Homo sapiens: one gene and its partners. The protein of the gene in region 1 purifies or fractionates together with the protein of each later gene. This does not show direct contact. Each region holds a gene or a part of one and is shown in the gene's direction. Other genes may lie near its edges. The genes, in order: CLOCK, TDRD9, KHDC4, RPRD1A, PUM1, CMAS and VPS50.

Evidence for each region.
Region 2: the proteins of CLOCK (region 1) and TDRD9 purify together in Homo sapiens (affinity purification with mass spectrometry; one large-scale study listed by BioGRID and IntAct). This does not show direct contact.
Region 3: the proteins of CLOCK (region 1) and KHDC4 purify together in Homo sapiens (affinity purification with mass spectrometry; one large-scale study listed by BioGRID and IntAct). This does not show direct contact.
Region 4: the proteins of CLOCK (region 1) and RPRD1A purify together in Homo sapiens (affinity purification with mass spectrometry, with the first as the bait; one large-scale study listed by BioGRID). This does not show direct contact.
Region 5: the proteins of CLOCK (region 1) and PUM1 purify together in Homo sapiens (affinity purification with mass spectrometry; one large-scale study listed by BioGRID and IntAct). This does not show direct contact.
Region 6: the proteins of CLOCK (region 1) and CMAS purify together in Homo sapiens (affinity purification with mass spectrometry; one large-scale study listed by BioGRID and IntAct). This does not show direct contact.
Region 7: the proteins of CLOCK (region 1) and VPS50 purify together in Homo sapiens (affinity purification with mass spectrometry, with the first as the bait; one large-scale study listed by BioGRID). This does not show direct contact.

Annotation. Positions count from the first base shown.
Region 1 is NC_000004.12:55,456,410-55,459,909, reverse strand, and holds part of CLOCK (circadian locomoter output cycles protein kaput), read left to right. Parts: intron 1-648; coding exon 649-762; intron 763-899; coding exon 900-1,018; intron 1,019-3,500. UniProt on the Homo sapiens protein: Transcriptional activator which forms a core component of the circadian clock.
Region 2 is NC_000014.9:104,001,456-104,004,955, forward strand, and holds part of TDRD9 (ATP-dependent RNA helicase TDRD9), read left to right. Parts: intron 1-2,782; coding exon 2,783-2,880; intron 2,881-3,500. UniProt on the Homo sapiens protein: ATP-binding RNA helicase required during spermatogenesis. Required to repress transposable elements and prevent their mobilization, which is essential for the germline integrity.
Region 3 is NC_000001.11:155,914,980-155,917,413, reverse strand, and holds part of KHDC4 (KH homology domain-containing protein 4), read left to right. Parts: intron 1-676; coding exon 677-789; intron 790-1,449; coding exon 1,450-1,541; intron 1,542-2,434.
Region 4 is NC_000018.10:36,033,060-36,036,559, reverse strand, and holds part of RPRD1A (regulation of nuclear pre-mRNA domain-containing protein 1A), read left to right. Parts: intron 1-2,722; coding exon 2,723-2,852; intron 2,853-3,500. UniProt on the Homo sapiens protein: Interacts with phosphorylated C-terminal heptapeptide repeat domain (CTD) of the largest RNA polymerase II subunit POLR2A, and participates in dephosphorylation of the CTD by RPAP2.
Region 5 is NC_000001.11:30,964,718-30,968,217, reverse strand, and holds part of PUM1 (pumilio homolog 1), read left to right. Parts: exon of another isoform or gene 1-55; intron 56-907; coding exon 908-1,051; intron 1,052-1,939; coding exon 1,940-2,236; intron 2,237-3,307; coding exon 3,308-3,500. UniProt on the Homo sapiens protein: Sequence-specific RNA-binding protein that acts as a post-transcriptional repressor by binding the 3'-UTR of mRNA targets.
Region 6 is NC_000012.12:22,049,218-22,052,717, forward strand, and holds part of CMAS (N-acylneuraminate cytidylyltransferase), read left to right. Parts: intron 1-3,500. UniProt on the Homo sapiens protein: Catalyzes the activation of N-acetylneuraminic acid (NeuNAc) to cytidine 5'-monophosphate N-acetylneuraminic acid (CMP-NeuNAc), a substrate required for the addition of sialic acid.
Region 7 is NC_000007.14:93,294,866-93,298,365, forward strand, and holds part of VPS50 (syndetin), read left to right. Parts: intron 1-1,876; coding exon 1,877-1,971; intron 1,972-2,279; coding exon 2,280-2,378; intron 2,379-3,500.

The DNA of each region.
Region 1 (3,500 bases):
CAGGAGGATTGCTTGAGCCTAGAAGCTTGCAACCAGCCTGGGCAACATAGTGAGACCCCATTTCTATAAAAAATTAAAAATTAGCCAGGCATGGTGGCTCACACCTGTAGTCTTGCGTACTTGGGAGGCTGAGGCAGGGGGCTCACTTGAGCCCAGGAGTTCAATGCCACAGTGAGCAGTGATCATGCCACTGCACTCCAGCCTGGGTGACAAATCAAGACCCTGTCTCAAAAAAAAGAAGAAAGTAAGGACCCAAAGGTGTAGATGCTAAAGGAATAAGGAACAGTGATGTGGCCCGGGTCCTAGAGAAAATAGGAAAGACTATAAATGGTAGAGATGGAAGGATTAGCTTTAGAATGTGAAGCAAAACTTTCCTTTGAAAGTGAGTAAAGAATGAAAAGGATGAGTAGCTAAAAATAGGGAAACATTAAGTTGTTTGCACCAGAAAATCTATTTTTTCTATTAAAGACAAAGTGAGATCCTCTCCTGAAGGTGCTCTACTTTTATGAACTAAATGTCATTGACGACTTCTGTTGGGGAAAATAATGGTTGTAAACTTACACAACTTTTATGATCTTACTTTATGTGGTATATCAATCATTGTTTTATATCAGAAATATGTGATTTTTAAAATCTCTTTTATTTCAGCAAAAAATCAGTTAGAATTCTGTTGTCACATGCTGCGAGGAACAATAGACCCAAAGGAGCCATCTACCTATGAATATGTAAAATTTATAGGAAATTTCAAATCTTTAAACAGTGGTGAGTTAAAATGCTTCTCTCACAATGTGTTTTAACTTGTTATTTTTCTGTGCTCTTAAAGACATAGATGTTTGAATATCAGTGACAATTAGGTTTTGCTGGCATAACTGATGATACATATTTCCCTATTGTTTTAGTATCCTCTTCAGCACACAATGGTTTTGAAGGAACTATACAACGCACACATAGGCCATCTTATGAAGATAGAGTTTGTTTTGTAGCTACTGTCAGGTTAGCTACACCTCAGTTCATCAAGGTATGTTTTTAATTTTATTTCCCAAAGGGGATTTCAGTTCATATGCTGAGAGCTGCCTGAAACTTCCTGCAGACATTGAGGTGGAATGGCTATGAGTCATTAAATATGCATGATAATATTTTTGAAACGATGAGTTATCAAGACACTCATTAAATTGTATAACTAATTTTTTAGTATATATCCTTTGCAGTTAACCAGTGATTATTATATATCAATATTGCCCTACTTTTGTGGAAGATTTTAGGATCCTTTTGTGTGTTGTTCATTATCTCTATTAAAAGGGAAAGTCCAAAAATCTAGGTTTTTGGAATCTTTATTTTTAGAAGGTAACTTTTAAATTTTTATTTGAAATGTACAAGTGGCTCTTTGCCACATATAACTTACCTTTTCAAATGTAAAATTAGGTATTTTATTTTTATTTCCTGGACCCAACAAACAGATGACAAGTAGGGAAGTGGGAAAGTGAAAGAGTTAACCACTAGAAACTGACTGGAAAGAGGCAGCCAGGCTAAGATTTAAAATTTCGGCGGGGCCAGGCGAGGTGACTCATGCCTGTAATCCCAGCACTTTGGGAGAGCAAGGCGAGAGGATTGCCTGAGCCCAGTAGTTTGAGACCAGCCTGGGCAACGTGACAAGACCCCATCTCTACAAAAAATACAAAAAATTAGCCAGGCATGGTGTTACACACCTGTGGTCTCAGTTACTCAGGAGGCTGAGGCAGGAGGATCATTTGAGCCCAGGAGGTCGAGGCTGCAGTGAACTGTGTTTGCATTTTATTTTGAGACAGAGTCTGACTCTGTCTCAAATAAATTTGGGGGGACATCATAGTATAGGACAAAGTACTGAATTAATAGAAGATCTTAAGCCAGTCTTGCTTGGTTTGTTTTGATCTTATGAAATAATAGTTGTTAACATTTGAGTGCTTACTACATGCTGTGTATTTTATATGCATTATCTCATTAATTCTTATGACAACCCTATAAGTTAGATGCCATTACGATCCCTCATTTTACATTATAAGGAAACAGGCTTAGGGAAGTTAAGTGACTTGCCCAAAGTCTCAGCTATTAGTGATGAAACTGGGACTTGATTCTATTAATTAATAATTGTTTTTTTCTCAAAGCCCAAGCTCTCAACTATTACAGAGTGCTGCAGGTCATTCAGGGACACAGAGGCAGGATGGAATACATTGTTTAGTATGACTAGAGTCTAGGGTTAGTGTGTGGAGGGGGAAGAGATAGTGGGAGGTAAGGCTAGAAAAGTAATCAGAAACCAGAAATAAAATTTGTTTCTTTCTTGTTTATTTCTCCATGCTGAAGAGAGTTTAGCACAAGGAACCACTGAAGGTTTTTTAGCAGGGAAGTCATATAATATTTGAGTATTGGTAAGGTAATTGTGGCCCTAGAAGAGAAGATGAGTTGAAGGACAGGGAGACTGGTGAACACTGTAGCAAATCAGTGATGGCAGGGGTCTAAACCAATGCACTCAAGATGGATGAGATAGAATTGATTTTTAAAATACTTAGATGAAATGGAAAAGATTTAGTAATGGCCACTTAGATGATGAAAGGTAAAAATGAAAGAGTATGTTTTTTTAACTATCAGATTTCTAGACACTGGCCACTACACATGTATAGAATAATACGGAAAATTGTGTGATTGGGTGTGAGGAGTAAAGCAGTTAGTTTATTTTAGGACATATTGAATTTGAGATGTATGAGGACATTCAGATATTTGGAAATATGGAACTGTAATTCAGGAGAGAGGTCTGAATTTTGAATAAGCGTTTATAGGCATGTGTGAATGGAAAATGTGTAGAGTGAGAAGTACCCACCCAAAAGCTTGCATCTAAAGGTTATTTATTACCACATTCTTTAGTACTGGAAAATTAAAATATATTAACTTGTTTAGAAGGGCCTGCATTTTGGCTTATGCCTAGAATCCCAGCACTTTGGGAGGCTGTGGTGGGCAGGTTGCTTGAGCCCAGGAGTTGAAGACCAGCCTAGACAACATAGACCCCCCACCTCTACAAATAAAAATACAAAAATTAGCCGGGCGTGGTGGTGCATCCCTATAGTCCCAGCTACTTGGGAAGCTGAGGCAGGAGGATCGCTTGAGCCTAGGATGTTGAGGCTGCAGTGAACTGAGATCACACCACTGTACTTCAGGCTGAGTGACAGAGTGAGACCCTGTGTCAAACAAAGAAATAGGTAAATATATACATACATAGAAACAACTAACTTGTTTAGGAAAAGTTTATCTAGTAATGACTATTTATTTATGTATTTATTTAACCTCCACCTCCTGGGTTCAAGTGATCCTGCTGCCTCAGCCTGCCGAATAGCTGGGATTACAGGTGCCCGCCACCGTGCCCTGCTATTTTTTGTATTTTTAGTAGAAATCGGGTTTCACCATGTTGGCCAGGCTGGTCTCAAACTCCTGACCTAAGTGATTTGCCCACCTCAGCCTCCCAAAGTGCTGGG
Region 2 (3,500 bases), on another chromosome or scaffold:
TTAAGGACATTTGAGGTTTTTCCAATTCTTGCCGTGTAAATAAAACAGCTGTGAATATTCATGTACAGGTTTTTGTGTGGCCATAAGTTTTCATTTCTCTGGTATAAAAACCCAAGAATATAGTTACTGGGTCATGTGGTAAATCTATGTTTAGTTTCTTTTGTTTTGTTTTGACACGGAGTCTCACTCTGTCGCTGGGCTGGAGTGCAACGACGTGATCTCGGCTCACTGCAACCTTCACCTTCTGGGTTTAAGCAATTCTCCTGCCTCAGCCTCCCGAGTAGCTGGGACTACAGGCATGCCCCACCACGCCCAGCTAATTTTTGTATTTTTAGTAGAGATGGGGTTTCACCATGTTGGCCAGGACGGTCTCCATCTCTTGACCTCGTGATCTGCCTGCCTAGGCTTCCCAAAGTGCTGGGATTACAGGCATGAGCCACTGTGCCCGGCCTATGTTTAGTTTTATAAGGAACTACTGTAAACTCTTTCCATGGTGGCTGTGTCATTTTACATTCCATGAGCAATGTGTGAGATCTGTTTTTTCCGTATCTTTGCCAGCACCACTGTTAAAAGAAAAATTTTGGCCAGACACAGTGGCTCATGCCTGTAATCCCAGCACTTTGGGAGGGTGAGGTGGGCAGACTGCTTGAGCCCAGGAGTTTGAGATCAGCTTGGGCAACATGGCAAAACCCTATCTCTATAAAAAATACAAAAATTAGTCAACCATGATGGCATGCGCCTGTACTCCCAGCTACTCAGTAGGGTGAGGTGGGAGGATAGATTGAGCCTGGGAGGTCAATGCAGTTGAGCCATGATTGCGCCACTGCACTCCAGCCTGGGTGACAGAGTGAGATGCTGTTTCAAAAAAAAAAAAAAAAAAAAGAAAAAAATTTTAGACAAATTAAATTTAACAGAGTTTTAAAGAACAATTTGCAAATTGGTCTGCCCCTGAACTGGAAGAGGTTTAGAGAGACTCTGGTGCTGTTGCGTGGTCAAGGAAGATTTATGAACAGAAAAAGGAAAGTGACGTGTAGAAAATGGAAGTGAGGTACAGAAATGGCCGAATTGACTACACCTGGGCATTGGTCCTCTTTGAATGTGGTTTGAGCAGTTGGTTGCCTTTGATTGGCTGAAACCCGGTGATTGGCATAAGAGTGGGTTATAGTCTTTTTACATATCTAGTTAGGTTATAGTTTACTATATGCAGAGAGACTTTTAGGCTGAACTTAAAATATGTAAGGAGGCATCTTTAGGCTAACCTTTTTTCTTTTCTTTTCTTTTTTTTTTTTCTTTTTGAGACAGAGTCTTGATCTATTGCCAGGCTGGAGTGCAGTGGCGTGATCTCGGCTCACTGCAGTCTCCACCTCCCAGGTTCAAGCAGTTCTCTGCTTCAGCCTCCCAGGTAGCTGGGACTACAGGCGCGCACCCCTATGCCTGTCTAATTTTTGTATTTTTAGTAGAGACAGGGTTTCACCATGTTGGCCAGGATGGTCTCCATCTCTTTACCTCGTGATCTGCCCGCCTCGGCCTCCCAAAGTGCTGGGATTACAGGTGTAGGCTAAACTTAATTTAACAACTTTCCCTTTTGGTCAACCTGTCAAGATTAAGAGGTTGACCAAAACCTTAGGCATTGATGTCACTTTGTCACCATTGTAAATGTGTTTATTTGGTCTCAGATCTCCCTGGGAAGAGATTGAGATTGGCTCAATCTCTTGAGCCAAGAGATTGAGACAGTGAGTTTTGTCAGGTGGGAACAAGGACTTTAAGTTATTTTTTTATAAGGGTTAGAGTAGCGGGGACCTCTTTATGTTGGGATTTTTTATTTTTATTAGTAGGAGAAAAAGACAACTTGGTCTGTTTTAGCATCTATCTTATGCCTTAATAAACAAAAGACAAAGGGTAGATTTAGATAAAAAATTTTAATAGTACCTTTGTTAATCCATAATCAGTCAGAAACAAAACATTGGTTCACCCCTCTTGACCTACATCATAGGTTAAAGAAAACATTGCCAAGAGGCCTTCACCCTTCTAGATAGATATCTTTTGTTAGGATCTAGATCCCCATAGGTGGGGAAAGAATGCTTTTTGGGTTGCCCCATTTCTTTTAAAGCTGCATTTTAAGACTCCCTCCTACCCCTCCCTTCACTCTCTCTCCTTGGACTATTTTATTATGTGTTAGGATAAAAGAGTTGCTACTTCATAGGTGATAGAGTCACAAGAGAGTAGTAGTTTGTGTCATGGTCTCTGTGGGCCAGCCTTGGTTCTGAACCTTCTGCTTGTTCCTCACTCGGTCACGTAATGCGGTGTGGCTGACAGCTGGGAGGGTGCTTTGCAGTGGGGCAAGGAGCTGTGGGAAGCACAGGGTGCTGAGACAGCTCCTCGATGGCATTGTAGGGCCTGTCGCCAACCTCGTGACTTTCTGTTATGTACTGTGCATTTTCAAGAAGGGTGTACTTGGTTTCTGTTGCATATTGGGCCAAGGTTGTTTTCTTCAGAAATATGCATTGGATTTTATAATATTGGTCACTGAATAGAAGTCAGCATTTAGTCTTGTTCTATTTATTCTAATTTTTTAGGATAGTCATTCTTATTTAGAATAATGTTTAAAATAATAACTTATTAAGAATACACTAATGTATTCTAAAGTTTTTACTGACATAGTCTGGTGGAAGATACTTAAGGCTTTGCTTAATTAATATTTAATGACTGTTTAAAAAGATACCTTCATGCTGATGTTAAAGTAATTAATGCCAAACACTGTTTGCACATCTCTCCTTTGAAGGCCGTGCTGGACGAGTGTCTAGAGGGTACTGTTACCGGCTGGTACACAAGGATTTCTGGGACAACTCCATCCCTGATCATGTTGTTCCTGAGATGTTGGTAATTCACTTTGGTCATTGTCAAAGTTTATTTATTTATTTATTTATTTATTTATTTATTTATGAGACGGAGTCTTGCACTGTTGTCTGGACTGGAGTGCACTGGCATGATCTTGGCTCACTGCAATCTGCCTCCCGGGTTTACGCGATTCTGCTGCCTCAGCCTCCCAAGTAGCTGGGATTACAGGCACACACCACCACGCCCAGCTAATTTTTTGTATTTTTAGTAGAGACAGGGTTTCACTGTGTTGGCCAGACTGATCTCGAACTCCTGACCTCGTGATCCGCCCGCCTTGGCCTCCCAAAGTGTCAAAGTTAATTTTTTGTAGATAGTTTTGCCAAATAGTCTAAGTGATATAATTTCTAGTGTCATCTAATTTTGATTCCAGAAAAATCCTTGTCTTGCCACATTCCCCCTCACTCACAATCTGGGCTCACTATTGATTACACATCAGGCTACTGTCTAGGGCGTTACCCACATTTTACAGTTTTAATGAGAGGATGTTTTCTGGTATCTATGGGCTCTATAATAGGATTGTCTTTAAATGCTGCTGTTTTCTATGTCCCTTTATAATGAGTAATTGTGGGATCAGCTTTTTTTCCTTCCTCTTTTCTGTGTCT
Region 3 (2,434 bases), on another chromosome or scaffold:
CCCAGTACTAGGATTTCTGCTTTCTGGAATTCATTTTGGTTAGGTTTTTTATCCTATTCAACAGACTCTTGAAAGCCTCTGAGAGTTCTTACTTTCTTATACATCTCACTCAAAGCTCTTGATCTACCAGTATGTGGTTTGTATTTAAAACCTTGGCTTTCAGTGGTGCTCTCTCTTTTACCCTCCACCTAAAAAAGAGAGTGATATCTCCCTCCAGTCTCCCCACCCCTCAAGACTGCTAGAAAAGGAGTGATTCTGTACATGTAATTGTAAAGTTAGCCACTAAAGTTAAAAAGATTCTTAATTTGTAGTTTTGGTGCAATTTTATCAGAAGTACCTTTCCATTTTGCCAGAATCCTTGAATCATTCTTTAAACCAAAGCATTTTTTTATAGTTTCTAGCTAGGTTTATAGAAACTAGTGGAGCTATGGGCAGTCAGTTAAAAACAGGCCATAGATAGCATAATGAATTATAACACCCCTGTCCAAGTCCTATAGAGAAAAAAAAAAATCCCTACTTTTGACTACAGTTACACAGCAGATCCCAAAGAGCTTTGTAGTAGTTTAACGTACTACAACTTATCAGAAAGATGAGGCACTTGACAGTTACATTAAGGAGCTAAAGTCAATACGGCAGTTGTAGATTTGCTAATGCCACTGTATTTTTCTGCTCATAGCATGGACCCATTCATATGACTAATTTAGGTACAGGCTTCTCCAGTCAGAATGAGATTGAAGGTGCAGGATCGAAGCCAGCAAGTTCCTCAGGCAAAGAGAGAGAGAGGGACAGGTAAGTTGGAATAATTATGCAAATGTATTCAGATGTTATTTGTTTGCACCATTAGTGAGAGTAATGATCATTGCTATGAGCTTAAGTATTCTGAAACTGAAATGAAATCTTTGAATCAAATATGCTTCTGTTTGTTGTAATTGATGCAATGAAGTAAAATATGATAGGCCTTTTACAGATTTAGAAGCAGTTATATTCGGTTTTGAATAATTTATTACTTGTTCAGACATCTTTCTTGACTTCCATTGTCTGCATCTTGGCCATTTTCCTAAGGGTAGACAGTAACAGAAATGTTACATAATTCAGCTATTTTTGCTACTTTAGAGTCATTAGAATATCATGGATGGAAGTACATGAATGTGGGAGTTCAGCCTGCCACACAGTGCTTGAATTTTCCTTTCTTATATTAGTATATTAACCTTCATAAGAAAGGAGCTGATATCTTTCTATAACAGTTCATTCGATTTTTGTCATGGCAATTGCTGTGTAGACAGGCCTTATACTTTTATAAAGGGGCTGGGGGAAGGTGGAAGGGGTTGAAATTAATGGTTAAAATGAATTTGAAGGATTGTCTGCAGACATAATTGCACTTCTAATCCACTGGATAAGTTAAGAAAATTTAAATTGTCTGAAAGAAAGTTTCATTTTGTTTTTCAATAGGCAGTTGATGCCTCCACCAGCCTTTCCAGTGACTGGAATAAAAACAGAGTCCGATGAAAGGAATGGGTCTGGGACCTTAACAGGGAGCCATGGTGAGTGTGATATAGCTGGGGGAACAGGGGAGTGGCTAAGACTGGTCTAAAGCTATTAGTTTTCTCAGCCGGGCGCAGTGGCTCACGCCTGTAATCCCAGCACTTTGGGAGGCCGAGGTGGGCAGATCACCTAAGGTCAGGAGTTCAAGACCAGCTTGGCCAACATAGTGAAATCCCATCTCTACTAAAAATACAAAAACTAGCGGGCATGGTGGTGGGCGCCTGTAATTCCAGCTACTCAGGGGGTTGAGGCAGGAGAATCGCTTCAACCTGGGAGGCAGAGGTTGCAGTGAGCCAAGATCAGACCACTGCCCTCCAGCCTGGGCAATAGAGCAAGACTCCATCTCATAAATAAATAAATACATAAATAAAGCTATTAATTTTCTAACCTGATGTTCATTCAGGTGTTTAATCCAACCTCTATAATCTGTTGGCCAGTGAAAATACTTTTGGGCTGGGCACGGTGGCTCACGCCTGTAATCCCAGCACTTTGGGAGGCCAAGGTGGGCGGATAACCTGAGGTCAGGAGTTTGAGACCAGCGTGGCTAACATGGTGAAACCCCGTCTCTACTAAAAATAGAAAAATTAAGCTGGGCATGGTGGTGCATGCCTGTAATTCCAGCGGCTTGGAAGGCTGAGGCAGGAGAATCACTTGAACTTGGGAGGTGGAGGTTGCAGTGAGCCAAGATCACACCACTGCATTCCAGCCTGGGCACTAGAGTGAGACTCTGTCTCAAAAAAAAAGAAAGAGAAAGAGAAAATAGTTTCTAAAAAATTGTATACAGACAACCTTTTATTTCCAACAAACGTGTGCCGAGAGAGAGAGAGAGAAAATAGTTTTAAAAAAATTGTATACAGACAACCTTTTGTTTCCAACCAACGTGTATCTAGAA
Region 4 (3,500 bases), on another chromosome or scaffold:
AAAGTGAAAATAGTATCTTGGTATTTGGACCCCATGCTCAATCACCTCATATGGAATTTGTCCTTTGGAAAACACTGGTAAATATATTTTTAAATCTTGTAAATTTTTATTTTAGTGTATATTGTAAAAGCAATTCTGAATTCTTTGAGAGATTGATATAACCCATGAATTTAAAAAACATTCTAGGGCCAGGCACAGTGGCTCACACCAGTAATCCCAGCACTTTGGGAGGCCTAGGTGGGAGGGTCACTTGAGCTCAGGAGTTCAAGACCAGCCTGGGCAACAAAGTAAGACCTTATCTCTACAAAAAATTTAAAAAATTAGCCAGGCATGGTGGCGTGTGCCTGTGGTTCCAGCTACTTGGAAGCTGAGGCAGGAGGATTGCTAGAGCCCAGGAGGTCGAGGCTGCAGTGAGCCTTTAGTCTGGGAGACAGAACTTGTCTCAAACAAAAAAAACAAAAACATTTTTTTTGTTTTTGTGGTAATAAATATTATTTACCATCTTCATTTTTTCCGTGTACAGTCCAGTAGTGTTAAGTACATTGTTGTGTAGCCAGTTTCCAGAACTGTTCATTTTGCAAAACTGAGACTCTGTACCCATGAATAATTTCCTATTCTCCTCCCATTCCCACAGCCTTTGGCAACTATCCTTCTACTCTTTTTTTCTATGAATTTGAGTACCTCCAATAAGTAGAATCATACAGTGGTTTGTCTTTTTTCATGACTCGATTATTTCACCTGGCATGATGTCCTGGAGATTCATCCATGTTGTAACATGCGTCAACATTTCCTTCTTCTATAAGGCTGAATAATACTTTATTGAATATATAATTCACATTTTGTTTATTCATTGATCAGTGGGTTAGGTTGCTCTTAACTCTTGGCTATTGTGAATAATGCTGCTAACATTGTAAAATATTTTTATTTCAGTTGCTACTTTTTGTTTTGCATTGTTTTATCTTTTTCTTCTTTTCAGTTGCTACTTTTGAGTCTCAAAGATTAACATGCCCTTTTAATTATGACAGGAAGCATGGTCTAGTTGTTAAGAGGGATTTGCTTGGCTGTTGGACTTTTTGGATTCCAATCCTGGCTTATCTCTTCCTCATTATTTCCCTGAGGGCAAATAATGTTTTTGGCTTTGTTTGTTCAGCTGCCAAATAGAGACATATTGTTAGGATTGAGATAATGTATGTAAAGTGCTTGGAATAGTGTGTAGCACATAGTAAAAGTGCAGTGAAAGGATTGTTTGTTCAGGTACCCATTCAAAAGTGATGCAGGCAATCTCCCAATTAGATAATACAAATTTGAGTTTCTAAACTCATTTGACACTGGGAAGGCAAAAATCTGGATTGAACAATACCAATCTATTTTGTGGGTGGGATTGAGAGGGCAAGGATGGGTACAAAAGAGACAGGACTGAATGTTAGGATAGGGTCCCGATATCTTAACCAGTTGTACACTGTGGTTTATCTAACCAGACAAGGAGCCTGAAAACCAGAAGCTGGTCTCTGTTATAGCCATCTCTTCTTATTTTTATTCCATGCCAGCAACTTGCAAAATCATGAAAAGTGGTAGACAGCAATTTAAACAGACAAACCAGGTTATACAGTGGCATGGCACAGGTTTGTAAAGTTTGATCAGTTGTGACTTAGTATATGAGAAGGTTGGGCTTCTGGTTGCTCCTCGAGAATGATGTGAACTCAGAGGTGACTTTTTAATATGTCAAATGCTTAAATTTGTAAATTGAATACTTAACATCTAGAGGACCACATGTAGCCTGATCAAGATTTTTGTCTTAAATCCAATAAGATAGCCCACATCAATAGGATACTGCATAATTGGTCCTGACCATAAGTTTCCTACACCACTGTACTATGGATGCCACAAGGTATGATGCTTCTGAATATAACTGTACTACATTGAGTGATTCAAATTTAATTCTAGTAAAATATAAGAATAGTATAAAATATTATGTTCAACACTGTTTTCCTTATGTATAATCTTATTTGAGTCATATTCAGTAGTAGTATGCTATTTAACATTGTAACCAGTAAAAATGTACTGTGGCCCACAACTGTTGAAATCTTGTCTATTTCCTTAGAGAAATGACTACACCCACAGAGCATAGTGAGTAGGGGAATATTTTTGTCATAATGAATTCAGTTTAAAATTTATGGCCATGTAATCTAAAGACAGAAACATCTAAACTTTTCCCATTTACTCTCCCTAGCAGTTAATCTATTAGCTTGGCAAATATTTATTGCATAAACAAAAAATAGTAATTGATTGAAGGGACATCTCTTTCAACCTGTTTTACATTTCATGCTCTTCTGTTGTTTCACAATAGCTTAATAATGATTTCGAATTAACATGTCTATTAAAACAATCCTAAATTCAATGTAGGATTTAGGGTGCCATCTTAATAACATGAGCAATCACCATCTTATTTTAAATGACTATATTTCATATAGTTTGTAATGGTTTTACTAAAATTTAATACAGGATAGAGTCACCGAGATGCATTTTTACATAGACATTAGTTCTGGCGATTTTAGCAGCAGTGACTGGTTAGTTTGGTAGTAAAATGAGAGACTAGGGTTGAAATGATACATAAAGGTTAGTAGGGTTATTTTAGTTCTCAAAATGCTTAATTTAGGTATTGAGAAAGTTTGTCCAAGTAAAGATGTTTTAAGTAGATTTTTAACTTTTTCTTATTTTTCAGCCAAACCAAACAGGAAGCTTACTTTTCTCTACCTAGCCAATGATGTCATACAGAACAGCAAGAGGAAGGGGCCAGAGTTTACAAAAGATTTTGCACCAGTTATAGTGGAGGCTTTTAAGCATGTTTCAAGGTATGATCATAGTTTTGGGTATTAGGTAATCTGTTTTAAATGTACCATATGTCCTTTTGCTAAAATTTGCCTTAAACTATTAAAATAAAAAGTAGGGAATATAGTTTTTTGATGCTTTTATTTGAAAAGACTTCCCTCTACATGGCATTTATAAATGTATTAAATGCCTTCTCTGAAGGAAAAATATTTTTTGAACTGTTGCTAAGGTGGGCCTTTGGAGTACTTGAATTACAGCTTTCCTTTAAGAGACCAGAACCAACTGCTATATTGGAATGAACTTCATTAAAAATGAATGAAGGTATTGAAGTAAAAATTTGTGTGTTTATAAAGCTATCAGTCTTGTAACAAATATTTCCATATACACTTAGTACTGTTTCTATTCTTTTTTTTTTTTTTTTTTTTTTTTTTGAGACAGAGTCTCACTCTCACCCAGGCTGGAGTACAGTGGTGCGATCTTGGCTCACTGCAACCTCTGCCGCTTGGGTTCAAGCGATTCTCCTACTTCAGCCTCGCAAGTAGCTGGAATTACAGGTGCCTGCCACCATGCCTGGCTAATTTTTGTGTTTTTAGTAGAGACAAGGTTTCACCATCTTGGCCAGGCTGGTCTTGAACTCCTGACCTCGTGATCCACCTGCCTCGGCCTCCCAA
Region 5 (3,500 bases), on another chromosome or scaffold:
ACTTGCCCTCACTTAGACTATAGTTCACTGATGAGAGCATTGTTCTGAGCCAGTCTTAAGTCATATTGGAGGTATCTAAATGTCCATGCAGCTTGGAATATGTGGTTTTTCCTTGGTGGATTATCTGTTTTCTGTTTCAGAATCAGGGATAGATGGAGTGGCCAAGCTAGTTTACAAGGCTTAGTCTTTATGTTGATGTTTTTGAACAGCATGATTAGTGAGAAATTTCTGGTATACCTTGATAGGGTCATCCCTTACGTTTTTAAGGTTTCTCTTAAACCAATAGTAGGGGTCCTTTTTAGCTGTCTACCTCTGAGATACATGTTTATATAGATACATCTTGAATATATGTTGTTTTTGGTTCACTGTCAGCTGGTTTGGTGCTTTGCATGGGATTAGATGTACTTTGATGTTCTACATGTGAAACAAGTCTTTGAGAGATGTCAGCGTATTTTTATGGACCTTTACTGATCATAGAGCATAGCCAATTTAACTGAGCCATTTATGAATTCAATAAATAACTTTAACCTGTTTCATTTGTTTTTTAGTTACTGAGCCTTTGTGTGTTCTTAGGAAGTCACCTGCAGTTTTTCATATGGCTTAAACTGGGATTTGGAGATTCTATCTCACATAATATTGAAAGATCATGTTATTTAAAGCCTATCTAGGTTTTTCCTGCTATTTTGCAGGATATTTGTTCTTAAATTATTATGTAGTATGAAAGTACTATGATTTTTATAATCATTTGTAGCCTCTGTTTATTCAACTATTTAAGTGATGGAGCCAGTATATAAATCTGGCCAATTCAACCTCAAAGCTGAGTTTGTGATTATTGACAATATGTTGGTGCCCAGGAGATACTTGTTTGTTTAACATATACATTTCTTTGTTGGCTTGATATTCCTAGGTTATCCGGTGTTGGCTCCTGCTGCTTACTATGACCAAACTGGTGCCCTTGTAGTGAATGCAGGCGCGAGAAATGGTCTTGGAGCTCCTGTTCGACTTGTAGCTCCTGCCCCAGTCATCATTAGTTCCTCAGCTGCACAAGCAGGTGAGCGCACATCTGAGTGGACTCCTGCCAGAGATCTAAAAGTGGCGACTGATAGTGAGATTCTTAAAGTATGTTGAAATAAACTTTTGGCAATTCTCAGTATATCGGTTCTACCCTGTAATGTTTCAAAAAGAGATCAGAAGCAATAAGTGACCTTAGTGGATTCTCCTTTTTGTTGGGGGGTTGGTGGGTTGGGGGAGGGGTGGCATGTGCCAGCTGGTTAGAAGCAAGGTCTGAAGGTCTGGCTCCACTGAGAACATAGAAGTTGCATTACTCACACAAAATGGCTTTGTTGGCAGAAATCCAAGTCATTATTTTAAGATAATTTTAGAGGAGGGGTTGTTTTTTGCCACAGGGGCAGGAGTGGAGGACGTGGGAAAGAGTAGTGAGAAGTGACAAAATAATACATTTGGTTGGGAGGAGTAATAGTTTTTTACTTTAAGTGTTTATATTTATTTATTTTTTAATTAAGAACAATAACAGGAACATCTAGAAGACAGCAGTGTGCTAAAATAGGAATTTGAAGGATGTGTATGTGCATTACATGGTTCTAGAAGAAACCCTCAACATAGATATTTATGGAATTTAAGATTTTAGGAAGTAGTTGTATTTAATGGATACATTTGATGTTTATACCCCTTTTAATCTGTATACTCTTAAAAGCAACCAGCATAGTGAACTTGTTCTAGTGGTATTTTGAGTTCAAATTGAAAGTAGAAACAGAAAATAGAAGCTTCATATGAAGGGATCAAAGACAGATTTGTATGGTTTGTGTCTGTTTTGAAAAGATAGGCAGCATTAAAAGATTTTTTGAAAAAAGATAAAAATGTAGTTTGGAAATGTGGCCAGTCCCTTTCATAGCCAAACGGTTTGCTTTCTTCTTCATAGCTGTTGCAGCAGCCGCAGCTTCAGCAAATGGAGCAGCTGGTGGTCTTGCTGGAACAACAAATGGACCATTTCGCCCTTTAGGAACACAGCAGCCTCAGCCCCAGCCCCAGCAGCAGCCCAATAACAACCTGGCATCCAGTTCTTTCTACGGCAACAACTCTCTGAACAGCAATTCACAGAGCAGCTCCCTCTTCTCCCAGGGCTCTGCCCAGCCTGCCAACACATCCTTGGGATTCGGAAGTAGCAGTTCTCTCGGCGCCACCCTGGGATCCGCCCTTGGAGGGTTTGGAACAGCAGGTAGAAATTAGACTGATATGCTCTTAAGACTGAATTTTAATTATTTTTACAATCCTTCTGGAATACTGGCAATGCATGGAACCACAGGCAGATCTGGACCAAGCCTTGTGGGAATCCAGCCATCCCACATAATCTGTGAGATGATAGACTATTGAAATCAAGTTATACAGATGGGACCTATTTCAATCCATGCTCATGTGGCTACTTACTTAATCAGTTTCTTTCAGGGATTTGAAATCTAGGGAAGATTTTTGCTGTATTTGGGAAAAATATTGAGGGAACTGTAGAAATTGATATCAAAAACTGAGGGAGGAGGACTTACTAAAGATAGCAGAGCTGAAATACTCCACAATTGAGACTGAGCCGAGTTCTTGGCCTGCAGGCCTTAAAGAGTTACAAGTTTTCTTCAGTCTTTTGAGTAGAATTTAAGGTAGACATGTGGAAAATTAGGAGGAAGGATATTAGACCAAGATATTTTTAATGTTTTGATGAAAAAAGCAGGAGTGTAGTATGGTGAATAATGGGATAATTGCAGAGATTATAAAAAACAAACAAACAAAAGTGATCCCTAAATAGAAGGGCATGTGTGAAAGAAAGTATCTTAATTGGAATTGAGGGCAGCATTAACTCTCGATTGAACCCACTGAGAAAACAGGCTTTCATATAGAAGTCTTGTGTAGTGGGGCAGTACCCCATTTACAAATCTTTTTTCTGTATCCCATTTTTCTACTTGAACCTTTTCAATTGATGAAAGGCATTCTTCTAGTCCATTTTCTTCCACCTTTTCCATAGTTCATGTGGCCGTCAGAGCTTTTTAACCCTCCCTTATCCTATAATATACGACACCATAGGAAGGTAAATTTGGCATATGTTTGATGGTCATGTTAACCTGAGCCATGTCCTCTTTATTACTTATCTGCCCCTAGTACTGCTACATTAACAGTTAGGCTGTCTCTGCTGACAAATTTGCGGTGGTAAGGAGTCTGGATCAAAGTGTTAGGAACAGGTCACTGGGCTTGTTCTTCGAAGAACAGGCCTGTTCTTATCTGCATTGTTTTAATTCCATTTTAGTTGCAAACTCCAACACTGGCAGTGGCTCCCGCCGTGACTCCCTGACTGGCAGCAGTGACCTTTATAAGAGGACATCGAGCAGCTTGACCCCCATTGGACACAGTTTTTATAACGGCCTTAGCTTTTCCTCCTCTCCTGGACCCGTGGGCATGCCTCTCCCTAGTCAGGGACCAGGACATTCACAGACACCACC
Region 6 (3,500 bases), on another chromosome or scaffold:
ACAGTATAGCTTCATCTTCCACTCTTGAAACCAGCGATGGAGCCCCCGCTGAAAAACATGACAGGTTCATCAAGAGGAAAATTGGAGTACAATTACCAAAAGTGAGGGGGAATAGATTCTGTTGGTCAGAACCCAACAACCAACCATTACAGCAGGCATTGGGGATTTTGCTATGAAATGATTGGAAAATATGTATATATATTGACCAATGATTTTCCCATTTCCACATTTTAGCATTTGTACAAAACTTCTTTTAAAAAAAGACTCTAGTATCAACCTTTTCTGTACCAAGTAGTTTTATTTAATACTTCTAGACTAGAGTGTAAACTCATTGACCACAGGGATAATGTTTTATACTTCTTCAAGCCACCTGTGGTATCTGTCACTATATCAATGGTGGCGATTAGAAGAAATAAAATTGGCTGGGCTCACACTTGTAATCCCAGCACTTTAGGAGGCCGAAGGCAGGCGGAGGCCAGGAGTTGAAGACCAGCCTGGCCAACATGGCGAAACCCCATCTCTACCAAAAATACAAAAATTAGCCAGTTGTGGTGGTGCATGCCTGTAATCCCAGCTACTCAGGAGGCTGAGGCAGGGGAATCACCTGAACCCGGGAGGTGGAGGTTGCAGTGAGCCGAGACTGGACCACTGCACTCTAGCCTGGGCAACAGAGCAAGACTCTGTCTCAAAAAAAAAAAAAAAATTTTTTTTCTAAACTAGCAAAATGAATGTATTTCTAACTTAACAGTATCATGTAACAATGTGAATTTACTCTGTTCAAGTTTTGTGGCTATGTGCTATTTGTCATCCTTTCCAGGCATCTGGAGAGATTAGGTCAAAAGGTAATAGAAGGGACCAGCACTTCTTCCTCCATGAAGCCTTTACTGATCCCCTCAGTGAAAAGTAATTGTGCCTTTGTTTTCCCATACATAGCTACGTCGTTTGTACCTTCATTTAGTGCATGCCCTATGCAGGGAGATAAGATCACAGACTCTGAAATCAAACTGTGGATTTGAATTCCAGCATCACCATGTGTTAACTGTGCAAACTTGGGTAAATCGCTTAACCTCTCTGTGCCTCAGTCTCTTCATCTACAAAATGTACTGAAGTGTGTGCCTCACAGGCTTGTGGAGGGAATTAAGTGAGATAATGTACGTGCAGCCCTTAGAATAGTGCCTGGCACATAGTATGTAATCTGTTATTGACATTTTCCTCTTGTTTAGAAGGTTTTTACTATCTTCCATGCTTGTAAAATGGGAAACTCTCCCATTGCTTGTAAAACGGGAAAGTTGTAATGATCTTTAAAATTATTTCTGGTGCTAACATTCTTTGACTTTGAAGAGTTAGTGGAAAGATGTCTTTATTCTCTTTTTCAGTTTCAGTGGCCAGCAGACTTTTTCTGTAAAGGGCCAGATAGTAAATATTTTAGGTTTTGTAAGCCAGATCGTCTTTGTTGCAATCACTCAGCTCTACTGTTGTGTATGTTGTGAAGGTGGCCATGACAATACATAAATGAAAGAGTGTGGCTGTATTCCAATAAAATGTTACAGAAACAGGCTGAGGAGTGGGCAGAATTTGGCCTGGGGAGACTCCTGCCATACTAGGTGAAAAGCTAAGCTTCTTATGAGCAAGTACCCTCTTATTCATCATGGTATGCTTTATATACTAGATCATTAAAATGTGTTGACTTATATTCAATTGACTTACTATGAAGCTGTAAGAGGACTTTGGAGCACCCTTCCTGCCTCCTACCCTCTCTTTTGTTTCTTCAAAAAATGTTTACCTTAGGAGAGAGCTGAAGAAAATTGCAGCTGTCTGATTTGTGTTTTTCAGGGCTCGAAGATACCTTTGAGATTATTTTGTTCAAAACCACGATTTGACTTAATTGAGGCAGATTTCTCTGGCCTGCTCAGAATCAAAGCTAACAGTACTTTTCAAGGTTGCTAACTTTGCATACTAACTAGGCTAGTTAGTAGTTAAGAAAAATGCTGAGATAATTTTTTTTCCTTTAGTACAAAGTTATTGCCAGAGTTGATTTTGTAAGAGCTTAATTTTCAACAGTGGTTCAGTGCTGTGTAAGTAAACCTCAGAACAAATTGATTTGTAAGTGTTGCCTAACATACTTGGGAAAAGTAAACATGTTTTAGTTTTATGCTTAGGGTATAGACTTTTGATTAATGAAAGGCCTATGCTGTTATTATCCCTAAAATGGCAGCTTCTGATTTAAAATAGTTATCACAGGCACCATGGTTGATATTCCTGTTGGTCCTGTTAGATGTGGTGTGACTTCATTTGAGGCTAAAGCCATTGGCATTAGACTTTGACATTCACTCTGCTTGACTGGCCTGTTTGTTCACTTGCTCATTTTCTCTTTTGCATAGCCCCATCTTATGTCCCTAAACCAAAGGAAAATTATCTACTCAGTCTCTTTCATAGGTTATGATCATAGTATTTTAAGTGTACATATGGGATACTGTTTTCATATTTTTTTCACAGTGTAATTGCTTAACATAACATACAAATTAGACATTTGGACCTTTGAAGGTCTGGAAGCAGAACTTCAGTCTACCTTCTGAAGATTGAGTGTGAGGATTAAATGAGACAGAGTAGATGTTACTTTATTACCATTCCTATTTTGGTATTTTGAATAGCTAACATTAAATGTTTATTCTGTAGTAAATGGTTTATATTTAATCCTCTAAACCATATGAGGTACCCACTATTATTACTTACCTCCATTTTACTGAAAATTGAGGCATAGGGAGATATGGATTTTTCCCATGGTCATATAGCTAGCATGTGGTGGAGCCAGAATTGAACCTCTTCCTTCAGAAACCATCCTTTTAATCCCTTACTGTTTCATTCATTCAACAGATCTATATTGAGCACCTGATATGTAGCAGGCACTGTGAAAGTACTTTGTAAAAAGTAAAGCACTGAAAAGAGCGTAGTTACTTAATTGATCCCTCGCTTCTCTTTTCCTAATGGTTTAAAGAGAATTACACCGCTATATTGGCCTCAGTCTCCATCAGTAGGCCAAGACTTTCTCAAGAAAATAAACTATGCTCTATATGTTATTACATCCCTAGTGTCCAGAATCGTGCCTGGGACAGAATAAGCACTTAGTAAATGGTTCATAAATTAAGGATGAATGAACGAAAGAAGGAAGGAAGGAAGAAAAGCAAACCTCCTCCAAAATTCTGTTTTTTTTCTTGCTTTTTAAACATTACTTAAAGACCACTGAACCCTCTGGTATTGAATTTTCATTGCAGTAAAAATCAGGATAATGAAGTAAATGGCTTCAGCAATTTATTTCAATTAATGTAAATTAGATGCCAAATTACCATGTCTTTTGCCTTCCCTGTTTATTTTTTATTGTATTCTAATTTCATCTTATCCTCTCGTCATCTCTATTTTAAAAATGCACTAGGTTTTCATTGCTACTTTACTTTGTTATATACCTTTGACTATGACATTTCCCAAGAGAACATTTTTTTCCC
Region 7 (3,500 bases), on another chromosome or scaffold:
TGAGTACATCTTTTGTTTTAGAGGCCTAGCAAATTTCCACTATCATAGAGAAATGTATGCTTTCTCAGTGAGATGTTCTGTTTATTATTTCATTTATCTGTGTTTTCTTAATTTTTTTTTCTGTTAATTTTAGAAAAGGAGTAACTAAGTAGATAGCATACTTAGGTCAGATTATAGTTTAGAATGAATAATTCTTTTTTTCTCAGTCAATGATCTTTGTACCTTGAGGGAATCTTACATGCTTATTGGCTGAATATATCTGGTTTTAGTCCATTTGGGCTCCTATAACAAAATATTCTAGACTGCATAGTTTATAAACAGAGAAGTTTATTTCTTAGAATTCTAAAGGCTGGAAGTCAGAGATCAGGGTGCCAGCATTGTTGGGAGGGAGGGCCTGCTTCCTGGTTCATAGACATTGTCTTGCTGTATCCTCAAATAGTGGAAGGGATGAAGGAGCTCTCTGGGGTCCCTTCTATAGGGGAACTAATCTAATTAATGAGGGCTCTACCTTCACGATTTAATCATCTCACAAAGGCCCCACCTTCTAATATATTATCACCTTGGAGGTTAGAATTTCAGCTTCGGAATTTTGGGTAGACATGAACATTCAGACCATAGCAGTATCTTATTAAGTTTTTCTTTACAATTTAGTAACTCAGTTGTTGTAATCAGATAATTTGTTACTTCTTAGATCACAGTGTAATTTCTTTGAAGATAACTTACTCTTTTTGGACTTCTTTGAACCTTGGAAGACTATAGACCCTTTGGCCATGTTATGGTCTTTTAAAATGTATTTTTGATTTTTCTAATGAGGCTGATCTTTATTTTGACCATCTTTTTTTTTCTTTCTTTCTTTTGATTGATTGATTGATTGATTGAGACAGGGTCTCACTCTGTCACCCAGGCTGGAGTGTGGTGGCAGAGTCATGGCCCAGTGCAGCCTCGACCTCTTGGGCTCAGGTGATCCTTCTGCCTCAGCCTCCTGAGTAGCTGGGACCACAGATGTGCACCACCATGCCTAATTTTCTTAAATTATTATTGGTGGATATGGGGTCTTGCTATGTTGCCCAGACTGGTCTTGAACTCCTGGGCCCAAGTGATATTCCTGCCTTGGCCTCCCAAAGTGCTGGGATTACAGGCATCAGCCACCATGCCCAGCTTGACCATCTTTTATAGGATATGTTTTGAAAAAAATTGTTTAGGAAAATATATTTTGAAAACATAAATTTCTTCATGAATCAGTTAATATTTATAATTTAGTGCTCTTCTAATTTTTGATAATTTTGTATTCGATATGCTATTTGATTTTATGCTTTAGTATTTAAAATTTATTTTTGTGGTTGTAAGAGGTTTGACATATATTTTCTCATTTGTCTATATTAAACTCATAACCATATTAAACATTTATTAAAATTAAATATTTAATTTATCATTAATTGTGGATTTAGGCTGACTGTTTTCTGAGTATTATGCATAAAAAGAAAGGAAAATCTTATAGTTATTGAATATACACCCAGGATCAGATATGATTTGTTTCTGACTTAGTCTCCCAATAGGCCTTAAGTGTACTTTGGTAAAATTTTACAATCTATGATAGAATTTCTGGTAATTCAGTGTACTTTGAAATACTGACTTAGCACTTTATGTAGCTACTTTCCATTCAGTTTGGCAACCTGATGGCATTCCTGGTATAGGAAATGGGATTGTCTCTATTACATCCCTTAAGGATGTTGGCTATTGGCCTAAATAGATATTCGTTAACAAATTAGGAATATATTCCTGTCTCATTTTAATCTGGAACTATAGAGTAAATGCTTCTGATAACTTATTTTCTATATTTTGGGTTTGCTTGATTTTCTTTTTCTTTGCCTTACAGGATGTTCAGCTAAAAGTAAAAACCTACTTGCTTGGAACTGATTTGTCTATATTCAAATATGATGATTTCATCTTTGTTTTGGATATAATCAGCAGGTAGTATTTAAGATCTTGTCTTATTCTTTAGTTTGAGTCATTCAACCATGATAAATCATGAGCTAGTGAGTTATCATCTATAACTTCTTTATGGAAATGAAGATAATTTTTGCTGCTAAGTTTGTGAGTGTATTTAAATATTTCTGCCCTTTGGGTGTTTGTAAACCTTTATGGATTTGTGATCTTTAGAATTTTTTCACATGTCCAAATTTTAGTGATTTTTTTTATCTTTGAAGAAAGAGAAACCACACTTCTTTTTCTCTATAAGGCTGCTGCTGAAATTTACTGAAACCTTTTTATCCAACTAGGTTGATGCAAGTTGGAGAAGAATTTTGTGGTAGCAAGTCTGAAGTTTTACAGGAATCTATTAGAAAACAAAGTGTCAATTATTTCAAGAATTACCATAGGTAAGAACTCTAATAAGATATGAATCGACTTATTTAGGTAATGAGAATACTTTTGTCTAATACTTAATCTTATAGCATTAATTGATTTTAAACAATTACTTTTGAATTTGAATGTGTTGTAGCTTTTTTAAGATGGTTAAGGATTTTTTTAACCAAAATATGATGAAATGTTCTCATTACATATTCATTGTACATTTTAATATATTTTTGTCTTGAGGGGCTTAAAATATTGAACTGATTTTTTAATGAGTAAAACATGATTATTATATCAAGGTTCACAGAAAGAATTTGGCCACTGTTCCATACCTGCATACATATGGGTGTGCTTATAAGGAAGTTAAATCAGTAGAGGCAGTGCTCAGTGAGGGGGTGCTTGAGAGTATCTATCTTTTAAATGTAAGAAGGATTCTAGAGGAGAGGATGTGATATTCAGAATTCCCCTATAAATCCAAATTTGTATACTGCATTGCTTTGCAAAACAATCACTGCTAATATTTAAAAGAGTGACTAGGAATGGTTTGGGTAGTGGAGGAAGGTGGGAAAGAATGTTTATAATAGCAGTGTGATTATATCCTTACAGCAGCAATAAATTGAGGGAAGGGAGAGCTAACATGAGATTTCTCTTGATATAAGCTAGACCCCAAGTTGTATCCCTTTTGTCCTTTGAGTTGAGTTTCATCTTACTTTTTATTCTGAACTTTTACTTTTTACAATTGAATTTAAGTTTTGATTTCCTTGTTATTTGGTCCCAGAGAGAGTCATGATTTGAAATTCTGCTTTTTCTCCTTGTTCATAGTCAACACCTGCTCACAGTGATATATGCCATGTCAAAAGAGAGATGACTGAACACCAAACCATTGATTAATTAATTATTATATATATTTGAATACAAGTTATCTCTGTTAATTGTAAACAATGAAGTAAATTGTTTGAAAAAGATTTAAATTGAACTATACTAAAGCAGAGCCTTTGAGTTTCATGACTGAGAATGTTTAAAAATTTTTTAAAAATTTAATTGACTAAACCTCAGGGAAACAGTGGGAAGGGACCAACAGGAAGCCCTAACACTGCCTTTATTTATAAGTTCCTTGTCTGCTAAAACTTAAGCCCTGACTAAAACAA